2 separate regions of the Homo sapiens genome follow, and region 2 is linked to region 1. Evidence: fine-mapped expression QTL. A gene starts in region 1. The other region holds a variant in brackets. All regions are shown on one strand. Distances are between the middles of the regions.

Region 1 (5,380 bases):
ACGTGTGTATGTGGATAGATCCCTTTAATACCTAAGAGTAATTATTTTCATGTGAACTTGGAAATATTACCAAACCATAATAAGATGCCTGGATACAACCTTGTTAGAACAGAAAGAACACTTGAGACCTTACAGTTCAGGTTCTAGCACTACCTAAGCCAGATGACCTCAAGCAAGCCAATTACTAATTACTGATTGTTTCTGAGCCTTAATTTTCTCCTCTGTTAAATGGGAATCTACTTATACATTCACAGAGATTCCTTCTAATTCTAAATATTGGTTTCAGTGAAATAATAATGTTTCTTTTTTTTTTGAGACGGAGTCTGGCTCTGTCTCCCAGGCTGGAGTGCAGTGGCGCAATCTCGGCTCACTGCAAGCTCCGCCTCCTGGGTTCGCGCCATTCTCCTGCCTCAGCCTCCGGAGTAGCTGGGATTACAGGCGCCTGCCACCACGCCCGGCTAATTTTTTGTATTTTTAGTAGAGACAGGGTTTCACTGTATTAGCCAGGATTGTCTCGATCGCCTGACCTCGTGATCCGCCCAACTCGGCCTCCCAAAGTGCTGGGATTACAAGCGTGAACCACCGCGCCCGGCCCAATAATAAGGTTTCTTATTTAATGTAAGTAAGATAGGACTACTTCTACTCTTTAGTTAACTATACGTAGGCAAAAAACTTCAGCTTTTTCTGCACTTGGAAGTTCTGAAGTGACAATACATGACGACCAAAAAGGATCAGATTTAAACTCCCGAATGCAAAACTATACTCATTTTCCAGGAACCTATTTATTAACCATGGTGACTAATTCAATGGATCACGGTATCAAACTATTCTTTGCTAACTTTCAAAGGTGGGGCAAAGATCATCTCAGAAAAGTATGTGATAATATTTTCAGATAATGATGCAAAGTAACAGTATTCTACACTGACATATCTCCAGTTCTAAGAGTAAAGTGATACCATATTTTCATATTTAATAATTTCATGTTTACTAGCTCATTTAATCTTTGTGACAGTTGTATGAAAGAAAGTGAGCAGAATTTTTATCAACACAATCTAGACCAGCTCAGAATGTTAGGTAACCTATCAGCCATTACTTAACAAGTGTTGGAGCCCAGACTTCAATCCAGGTCTTCTGATTTAAAGTTTAATAGTTACCAAAATCCTAAAAAGTGGTGATTCAAGCCAAAAGCGAGAAGTTGGAAAAGTGAGAAAAACTGGATAATCAGTCCTTCAATTGAACATAAAGAAGATAAGATCAGATTTGGCAGTTATATAATCAAGAAGCAAATTTACCGAATGTTAAACTAATGATACATCTATCATAATTCCATATCTCAAATTTTGTCACCTTGTTTCAAAGCCAAGCGTGAACAAATTTTCAAACTCAAAATAAGAAAAATATGTAAACTGACAAACTGATTTAACTAGCTATAGGTAAACTGGTAAAAGGCATCATGGTTCTATGTATATTTTCTTCTGGAATGTGACTCATAGAAATTAAACTGTATTAATCAATTGTAATCAAGTAGGATATATCCCTCAAAGGAAAAAAGTAACCTTCAGTGCCTTAAGATAATGTAGGCAAAGTAGTAAAATATAAAATTTCTACTCGAGAGAGTCACTTCATACCTACACAAATCAGTCACATTTGTCTAGGTACCACCATCCCTCTTCCACAGTAAAAACATAAGCTACAATGCATACAATGATGCCTAGTAAGTAAGTTTCTTCCTTTCATCATCTATGCTAAGAATACACAACTAAAATCAGAGCTAATGACAATACAATTACTAGGTAGTAGCAACTGGAATATTAAATTCTATCATGACAACACCAGAAACACTTGTACAAGCTTCTTCAAATGATCAATGTAATCTGTCCACAAAAATCTCTGACAAGCCCCAAAGTAGAAATGAAAGACGTTAACATTAGGATAAGGAGCGATGCTGCCAAAACACATCAACAGTGGCCAGTCTACGTGTATTATTAGATTTTTACATGGAGTTGCAGGTAAATAAAAGATGATTGTGTAAAATCTTCTGGAGGTCATAAGTAATCTAGCAGTGTGACACAGGGCCACATATGGTTTCTGGAATTTTAGAGATTAAGTCGACCTTCACGTTTTACTGCAAATACCTCCACTGTAATAAGATATAGAGGTCGGGGTTCAGGGGTTTGGAAAGGCAGACAACTCTTTTTCATTAAAGCAGTGAAAAATCTGAGAAGTTCCTCTCCAAGGGCTCTGCGGAGCGAAGGCCCATTCCCTTGGCTACCCTGTACCACCAGAGCTTTAGATGGCACTTGCACGCCTGGATTTCGTTTAGGAGCGAATACATCTAGCATCATGCGCCAGAGGTTCGGGAGAGCAAAAACCAAACTGACAGATCCTGAGAAATAGCTCAGTCATCAGCAGGGAAGACCTTCTCCACTTACTCCAAGGTCCTGGACATCCCGGGACTAAGAGGTTCTCTAAAGAAGCCTAGCAAGGCTTCCAAGTACGCGGAGAGGAGAACGAACAGCCCGGTGTCTGGGTTCAATGTCCGGGTGACCAACCATGAGAAGGTGTCCCAAATAACCTGGCTACCGCCAGCGTGAGACATCCAGGGTGAGACATCCAGTCAGCAGCGTCCTAAAACACTGCTGGAAGTCGGAATCACAGTGCCCCAGATCCGCAATGCCTAAGTGGGAGAGCTCCGGAAGACGCCAAGCTCTGAGGACAGCCTCAGGCTTCGGTCCCCAATTCCCTGAGTTAGTTTACCTACCCGCTCCGACCCCGGCTGCTCCGGATCTCAGGATCCTGGAAGCTGCTCCTTACGGACTCTCACACCCGCCGCTGGGCTCCAGACAACCGGAACCCGCTCACGTCACTTCCGGTCCGGTCCCTCTGCCCCCTGAGACAGCCTCCAGAAGGGATACGTTCCTCCCTCCTTTCGGCGAGCTCGGTTGATCCTCGCGGGATTTCAGTTAGGCTCTTAGTGCGGGCCCTGTGGGTGTGGCAAGAGGAAGAATGACTGCTCGCTTTGTGATTCTTGATCCGGAACTTGTCACCCAGGAACCCCGGAAGAGGTAGCTCACGCGATAGAAACGTGTTCGCTGCCCAGAAGAAGGGAAGGCGCGAGTGAGGAAAGGAGGTACTGTAGGTAGGTTGGTTGGCTCCTTACAGGGCGAAGGAGACCAATATCATTATTCATTTTCTCGCCAGTAGGAACGTTTCTTTTCACCTCGTTGCATTACCCACCTTCTTCATTTTCTCCTTTATAAACTGTCTTCCGCCCAGGGGCCGCTGAGCCCTCTGTTCCTGTTCTGCGAACCGTCCTTTGGAGGAAAGGAACAGGCTGCTGGGGAGGGGAAGACTCAGAATTTCTAGTTCCCAGCAAAGCCTCCAGGCAGGCAGTATCGATGCGCTCTCTCCGAAATTGATAAAATAGCGAGCAGGCCTCATACCCTCAGCTGGGCACTTATGAATATCCCCAGCGTTTCGAGCTGTCGAGCTCTGCGTGGAAAGAATTGGTTTCTAAGAATATAGTCGAAAATTTGGGGCCGGGCGCGGTGGCTGACGCCTGTAATCCCAGCACTTTGGGAGGCTGATGTGGGCGGATCACCTGAGGTCAGAAGTTCGAGACCATCCTGGCCAACATGGCGAAAACCCATCTATACTAAAAATACAAAAATTAGCCGGCGTGGTGGCGCGTGCCTGTAATCCCAGCTACTCGGGAGGCTGAGGCAGGAGAATGACTTGAACTCGGGAGGCGGAGGTTGCAGTGAGCCGATATCGCTCCATTGCTCTCCAGCCTGGGCGACAGAGTGAGACTTCGTCTCAGAAAAAAAAAAAAAAGAAAGAAAAAATTTCCCCCCTTTTTCACACAAAGAGATTAACTAGAGAGGTATTAATCCTTACTGACATACCCCAGGCACCATACTAGACTCTGGGAATATGTTATACAGGGAAAGTGGGGCAGTGGCTTAAGGGTCAGAGAAGATTTGGGAAAGGTTTGTTTGTTTTTTTCGGTTGTAAACTGCAGACCCGGCGCGGTGGCTCAGCCTGTAATCCAACACTTTGGGAGGCTGAGACAGGAGGATTGCTTGAGCCCAGGAGTTTGAGAACAGCCTGGGCCACATAGGGGGCCACATAGTGAGACCCTGTCTCTTAAAAAAAGATTAACGGGTGGAGCATGGTGCAGAAGGAGGTAATGGGATCAAGAGCACTACTGAAATGGGTTTACTGAGGCAGGGGAATTAGAAGGCACCAAGAAGAAGATTTTATAGGATGTACTTATTTTGTTCTGCTGTCATTGCCCAGAATTATTTATGAGACAAAGAATGGTTATTTGTTTTACCTTAGTCTTAGGCACTAGGCTTATTGATACGCTTGTCGTAAGTGTACAGAAAAAGAGACAGACATGTTGTTTTAGAGGAGTTAGATGATAATCTGATCAGATTAATATGAGATTAGAACATCCTAAAGAACAAAAATATGTGTTAATTTTAGCATTTTTATGATTAGACACTCCATTGAGATATGGGACATAATAAATAAACTTGGTAACTTTTGGAACTTTCACTGTCCTGTTTTTGATCTTATTGGGTTTTTTTTTTTTTTTGGAGACAGGGTTTTGCATTGTTGTCCAGCCTGGGGTGCAGTGGCACGATCATGGCTCACTGCAATTTCCACCTCCCAGCCTGAGGTGTCCTCCTACCTTATCCCCTGAGTAGCTGGGAGTATGGGCATGTGGCACCACATCTGGCTAATTATTTAAATTTTTTGTAAAGATGAGGTCTCACTGGGTTGCCCAGATTGGTTTTGAACTGGACTCGAGATGCTGCTGCCTCGACCTCAAGCAACTCCTTGAGGCCAGGAGTTCCAGACCAGCCTGGGCAACATAGCAAGACCAAGTCCATACAAAAATAAAAAATTTTTAAAAAATCAGGAGGGTGTGGTGGCATGCACCTGTAGTCCCATCTACTTGGAAGGCTGAGGTAGGAGAATTGCTTAAGCCCAGGAGTTTGAGGCTGTAGCGAGCTATGATCATGCCACTGAACTCTAGCCTGGGTGACAGAGGGAGACCCCTTCTCTTTAAAAAAAAATAAAGAAAAAGGCAACTTCTCTGTTTGATCCTCATATTTCTCATCTTTAAAATGAGGCTAATATATCTTCCTTTTTATGTGTTCATAGCAACAATAAATGAGGTAATGGATATAAAGGATTTAGTATGTTATCCAGCACATAATAGCTTCTCTATGTAGAGCAGTTCCTTCTCCAGATAGTACCGGAATGTAGTGTATGGGATATTTGGTTACTTTGCAGCCTAGAAATTATTTCAGAGAATCCTAATTGCTGACATTGCATATTTGTTCAGTTTGGAGTCTGGTTGTTAGATTAT
Region 2 (5,380 bases), 120 kb before region 1:
GCTAGCCCCTGTCCCCGCCCCCACCAAATCTGGATAGCCCAACTTCAGGAGACTGAAAACCTGTGCCCAGAGTTATAAAATTTAATTATGTTCTAAATGAATATCAGGATCTTTAGAATTTTCTTGATTGAATGAGGACCACTGTATGTAAATCAATACATCAAATTTATCCTCTGACCCCAGAGAGTTCTATCAATTGAGATTTGGCCCAGGAGCACAGGAGTAGACTCCTATATAGAAAATGATCCTGTTCTAACTGAAGCCAACAACCGCCTCTTCTGCTGAAGAGACTGAATTTTACATTTAAGGCAATAGTAGGATACACTTTCAGGAATGAAATTAAAGCCCTTCCCTATCCTACTCCCATTACAAGCTGATCTGTTATATGTACAAAAGAGGAAAAGAGGGTGTGGGAGAAGATCAGCAACAAGACAGCCTAGCAATTCCCTTTCTCGGTAACAGTCTTGTAAATAATTCTCCATCTTCAGAAATGTGCACATTTTAGTCAAACATTATAGAGTTAAATTTTCCTTCCTACCCCCTAGGCAGTGATCTAAACAGGCTTAACGGCTAGTATTTTAATGAGTTGTCATTTCCTGTCTGATAAAGATTCTCACAGTATTTAACCACCAGTTTCCCTGGGGACCAACCAATACTAGAGCTCTATTCATAGTGACTCAGAATGGACCTCAGACTCTTGCCCTTATTCAAAAATGACAGATTGCCCTCCACATGAAACTGCCTTTCCTAGTAAGGTAGACTGCTCGGAAAAGGGTGGGGGAGTTTATCATGCAATCTTTCTGAAGAAGCCAAAGGCCATCATGCTGACTCATTAATATCTACAGCCTTTCAGCCCTTTATTAATCCAGAATAAGTAAATGAACAGGTGCTAACTGAAAATAAACACATATTTAACCTAGTAAAAAAGGATCTAGTTATCCTGTGTGACTGGAATGAAAGTGTTATTATCTTTACCATTTAACTGAATAGAACACATGAATCTTTTTGTTTTGTTTTGTTTTGTTTTTGGAGACGGAGTCTGGCTCTATCACCCACGATGGAGTGCAGTGGCGCAATCTCGGCTCACTGCAACCTTCACCTCCCGGCTTCAAGCGATTCTCCTGCCTCAACCCCCTGAGTAGCTGGGATTACAGGTAGGCACCACTACACCCTGCTAGTTTTTGTATTTTTAGTAGAGACAGGGTTTCACCATGTTGGTCAGGCTGGTCTCAAACTCCTGACCTTAAGTGATCCGCCTGCCTTGACCTCCCAAAATGCTGGGATTACAGGCATAAGCCTCTGTGCCTGGCTCAGTATATGAATCTTTGAAGCTGATACTATAAGAAAAAACTGGTAACTGATGTATTCTACTTGCTTTGGATCTGAAATGTGGTAGCCCCCTAATCATGTTTCTTTACATCCAGGATCTTGGAATGGCACCCCAACATAAAATAAATTCAGGATGAAAATCACACACTATACTAGAAAATCTAGGGCTTTCTCATATATACAAGTTTGGACTGACAGTCCCTGGCACCTTCTAAAATTCGTTGTGATTTGACCCCAGGATCTGGGATTAAAACATCTTGAATTTCATTCACATCTGTGCCCTTTCAAATGATTAAAACTTCTTTTGTACTTAAGTTAGTCCATTGTACGCAGAGTGGTATTATGAACACATGACACCATGGGTTTCTTTCTGGCTGTGTAGAAGGAAGACCATGCTTTCTCCAGGTGTATTTTATCAGGTACATTGTTTCTACTGCCTTACAGCATATTTTATCACAAAATAATCTGCAATTGCCCTAGCTTTTGGAGATTTAGCATTATTTTCTGTAAGAATCAGATTGGAGGTTAGACTTCCTTATCATTAGCAGCTACTCTTTGAAATAAGCTAACATTAAAGAGAAGCTCTAGAGAACAAAACCTCATTTCAGAAGGCAGACTTGAGCAGCAGGAGAAAAGCAGGCATTTGTGCTGATGAATGTGGCCAGAGCTAAAGGAGTGGTCTATAAGGACTAGGTAAAACTGATTGGTTGCCAAAACAAAACTCTGTTAAAAATCAACTGATTGCATTTATAGAAAATGACAGACTGGTGGCAGCTTTTTTTTTTTTTTTTAAAGAGGTTGTGTCTCTTGCCTCAGCCTCCCAAGTAGCTGGAACTACAGGCGAGTGGCACTGCACCTGGCCCCAGTGGCAGCTTTTTTTTGGGAACAGGATCTTGCTCTGTTGCCCACTCAAGAGTGCAATGGCACAAACACGACTCACTGCAGCCTTGACCTCCCGGGCTCAAGCAATCTTCCTGCCTCAACCTTCCGAGTAGCTGGGGCCACAGTAGCTAATTTTTAAATTTTTTTCAAGAGATGGGGTCTCACCATGTTGTCCAGGCTGGTCTCAAACTTCTGGGCTCAAGCAATCCCGCCTCAGCCTCCCAAAGTTCTAAGATTACAGGTGTGAGTGGGCCTGGTGGCAGCTTTTTATAGTGACAGATCTGCACTGGTTTGAAGACTCACTGAGTTCTAAAACTTAAAAATCAGGCCAGCACAGCGGCTCATGCCTGTAATCCCAGCACTTTGGGAGGCCGAGGCCTCCTGAGGTCAGGAGTTTGAGACCAGCCTGGCCAATATGGTGAAACCCCGACTCTAGTAAAAATACAAAAATTAGCTGGGGGTGGTGGTGCATGCCTGTAGTCTTAGCTGCTTGGGAGGCTGAGGCAGAAGAATTGCTTGAACCCAGGAGGCAGAGGTTGCAGTGAGCTGAGATCACGCCACTGCACTCCAGGCTGGGCGACAGAGCAAGACTTGGTCTCAAAAAACAAACAGACAAACAAAAAAACCAAAAAAGTGATAGTATTGGCAGGACACAGTGGCTCATGCCTGTAATCCCAGCATTTGGGGAGGCTGAGGCAGGAGGATCACTTGAGCACAGGAGTTCAAGATCAGCCTGGGCAACACAGCGAGACCCTGTCTCAAAAAAGAAAAAAAAAGTGACAGTATTGATTGAAATTCAATCTCACTTAAAAAAAAGTTATGATCTCTGTCCTCAAGGAACTCTATCTAGAAGGATGCTGGGAGAGGGGAAAAAATGCACTTAAATGTACACTACAGAAACCAGTAGGTTTTTCATTGAAAGTAACCACAGTAGTAACTAGCTACAGCTGCACACAGGTGGATGCACGTGTGCACAGGAGAATAGACAGAAT[T/G]CATGCTGCATCCCTACCAAATTCACACAGCAGCTGTTTGAAACTGGTGCTCTAGTCTAAATTTCCAACTTCCAGCAAATGACTTCACTGGCTTCCAGAGTGCTCCCTCAGGAGTGTCCCCCTTCTCTGCCTCAAAACATCTTGGAGTCTTCACTCCAGTTTTCAAGAAAGAACTGGTTCATGAGGATAATCAATCCACTCCAGAATTGATCCTATCTCAATCATCTCTTATCATTTATATGAATTTAACTTCTCTGTAATAGTACCTAACAGGTTTTGTTATGGATATGAAATGAATATTTATGTAAAGCATCTGGCACAGTGGGTGCTTACTGAATGTTAATTTCCTTCCCACATCCTTCCCTTTCTTCATTTATATTTTCTATCTCTAGCATTTTACTAGAGTTTTTCCCTCAGCCTAAAATACACACTGGTCCCTCCTATTTAATGAATGAATTAATTCATCTGGTCAACAAATATTTACAAAACAATTAAAATGTGTCAGACATGACTTTCGCTTGACCTTTCCTCTAGCCCACAATTCCATGTAATCCAATATATTTGGGTTTTAATTTTCATCATGCTACTAAAATGCTCCATTAAATGGTCAACGGTAACTTCCAAATACAATGTACCCATTTCTCATCTAACAGTCTAACTCCAGAACTCCTGTTTTAACCTTTATGTGGTCTCCCAATATCCATAACAAACATATAGAAAGGTTAACTGTCAAAAGAGAAGGATATATAAACTACCACGGACAAGAAGAGAAAGGGGTTTTCCCAAGCTGCAGAAAGAGGTTATGTTAGACTGTATAACTGAGTCTCGGCAGCTGGGGTTTAAACCCTGTGTTAAGCCTTAAATTCTATCCTTTCATCAGATAATACAAATGCTGGGGTTCCACACTTCCATAACTTTTTCTGATTATTTTCAATGATCAAAGTCAAAGAGAATCAAATACATGGACCATTTTATCCTCTAAAATGAAAGGACAGATTTTCTTTCTGTAGAAGAAAAAGTCCAGGCCCACGTAGCTCATTCTGACCACTTTCCATAGAGTGAGGGATAAGAAACAACATTCGGATTCAAGCACTTTATTACTCACTGGTTAAAATGATCTCTCTTGCCACAGGCAAGCCTGACTCTGAGGTCAAGCATCAAGTTAGCTCAGAAATAGGAGACAGCAAAGAAGAGCATGGAACATTCTGTATCTGGTAAAAAGTCCCTGTTCCAGCCAACACCATCCCCCAGCCCTCAAGTTCAATGATTGAGTTATGGAAACTTTTCTTGTGTGGTAAAACTGGGGACTTTGTCTTCCAATAAGACCCTGGCAACATGACAATGAGCCAATGTTCTGCATATGGTTTGCTGCGAGTCATATGCTTAATGTTATTTTCTGGGAATTCACATCCCCTATTTGGTGAGAATATGGGAACATGTCATTTTAATCATAACTTTAAAAGTTAGATTTGGTTATGCTCTTTAAGAAATATGCACAGGTCTCTCCCACTGGAGAAAGTCTAAAATTAAATAAAAATTAGTATTAAATCGTAATTAAAAAAACAAAAAGGGCTGGGCACGGTGGCTTATGCCTGTAATCCCAGCACTTTGGGATGCCAAGGCGGGTGGATCATGAGGTCAGGAGTTTGAGACCAGCCTAGCCAACATCGTGAAATCCTGTCTCTACTAAAGACACAAAAATTAGCCAGGCATGGTGGCAGGTGCCTGTAATCCCAGCTACTCGGGAGAATCGCTTGAACACAGGAGGCAGAGGTTGCAGTGGGTCGAGATTGCACCACAGCGCTCCAGCCTGGGCAATAGAACAAAACTCTGTCTCAAAAAAAAAAAAAAAAAAAAAAAAAAATCACAACTAACATAATGCCTTTTGAGCTAGAAGTTCCCTAGTTCTTTGGTTCTATCACCTGACTTTGGGTCTCGCCATGTTCGAGACCAGGCTGGACTCAAATTCCTGAGAATTCAACCAATCCATCTGCCTCGGCCTCCCAAAGTGCTGGGATTACAGGCGTGAGCCACCATGCCTAGCCAATTTTTTTTTTTTTTTTTTTTTTGAGACGGAGTCTTGCTCTGTCACCCAGGCTGGAGTGCAGTGGCGCAATCTCGGCTCACTACAATTTCCACCTCCTGGGTTCAAGAGATTCTCCCACCTCAGCCTCTTG

What was found. PIP is the estimated chance that this variant, and not a neighbour inherited with it, causes the effect. A credible set is the group of variants that fine-mapping cannot tell apart.
Region 2: its variant is the best candidate, but not a certain one, in a credible set for the expression of VMP1 in whole blood (TOPMed, PIP 0.67).

What each region holds. Positions count from the first base shown.
Region 1 is chr17:59,705,130-59,710,509 of GRCh38, reverse strand. VMP1 (vacuole membrane protein 1) reads right to left here and starts at 2,856. Exons shown (of 12, transcript NM_030938.5): 1 at 2,762-2,856. It overlaps PTRH2 (peptidyl-tRNA hydrolase 2), which reads left to right and starts at 3,080. Exons shown (of 2, transcript NM_016077.5): 1 at 3,080-3,139. RefSeq lists enhancers at 2,751-2,810, 2,611-3,266.
Region 2 is chr17:59,824,765-59,830,144 of GRCh38, reverse strand. The region is part of intron 10 of VMP1 (vacuole membrane protein 1); the gene reads right to left. Among named protein-coding and RNA genes, the nearest start is that of MIR21, 14 kb to the left of the region's middle. RefSeq lists an enhancer at 177-366. The variant T/G (reference allele first, on the strand shown) is at 3,204.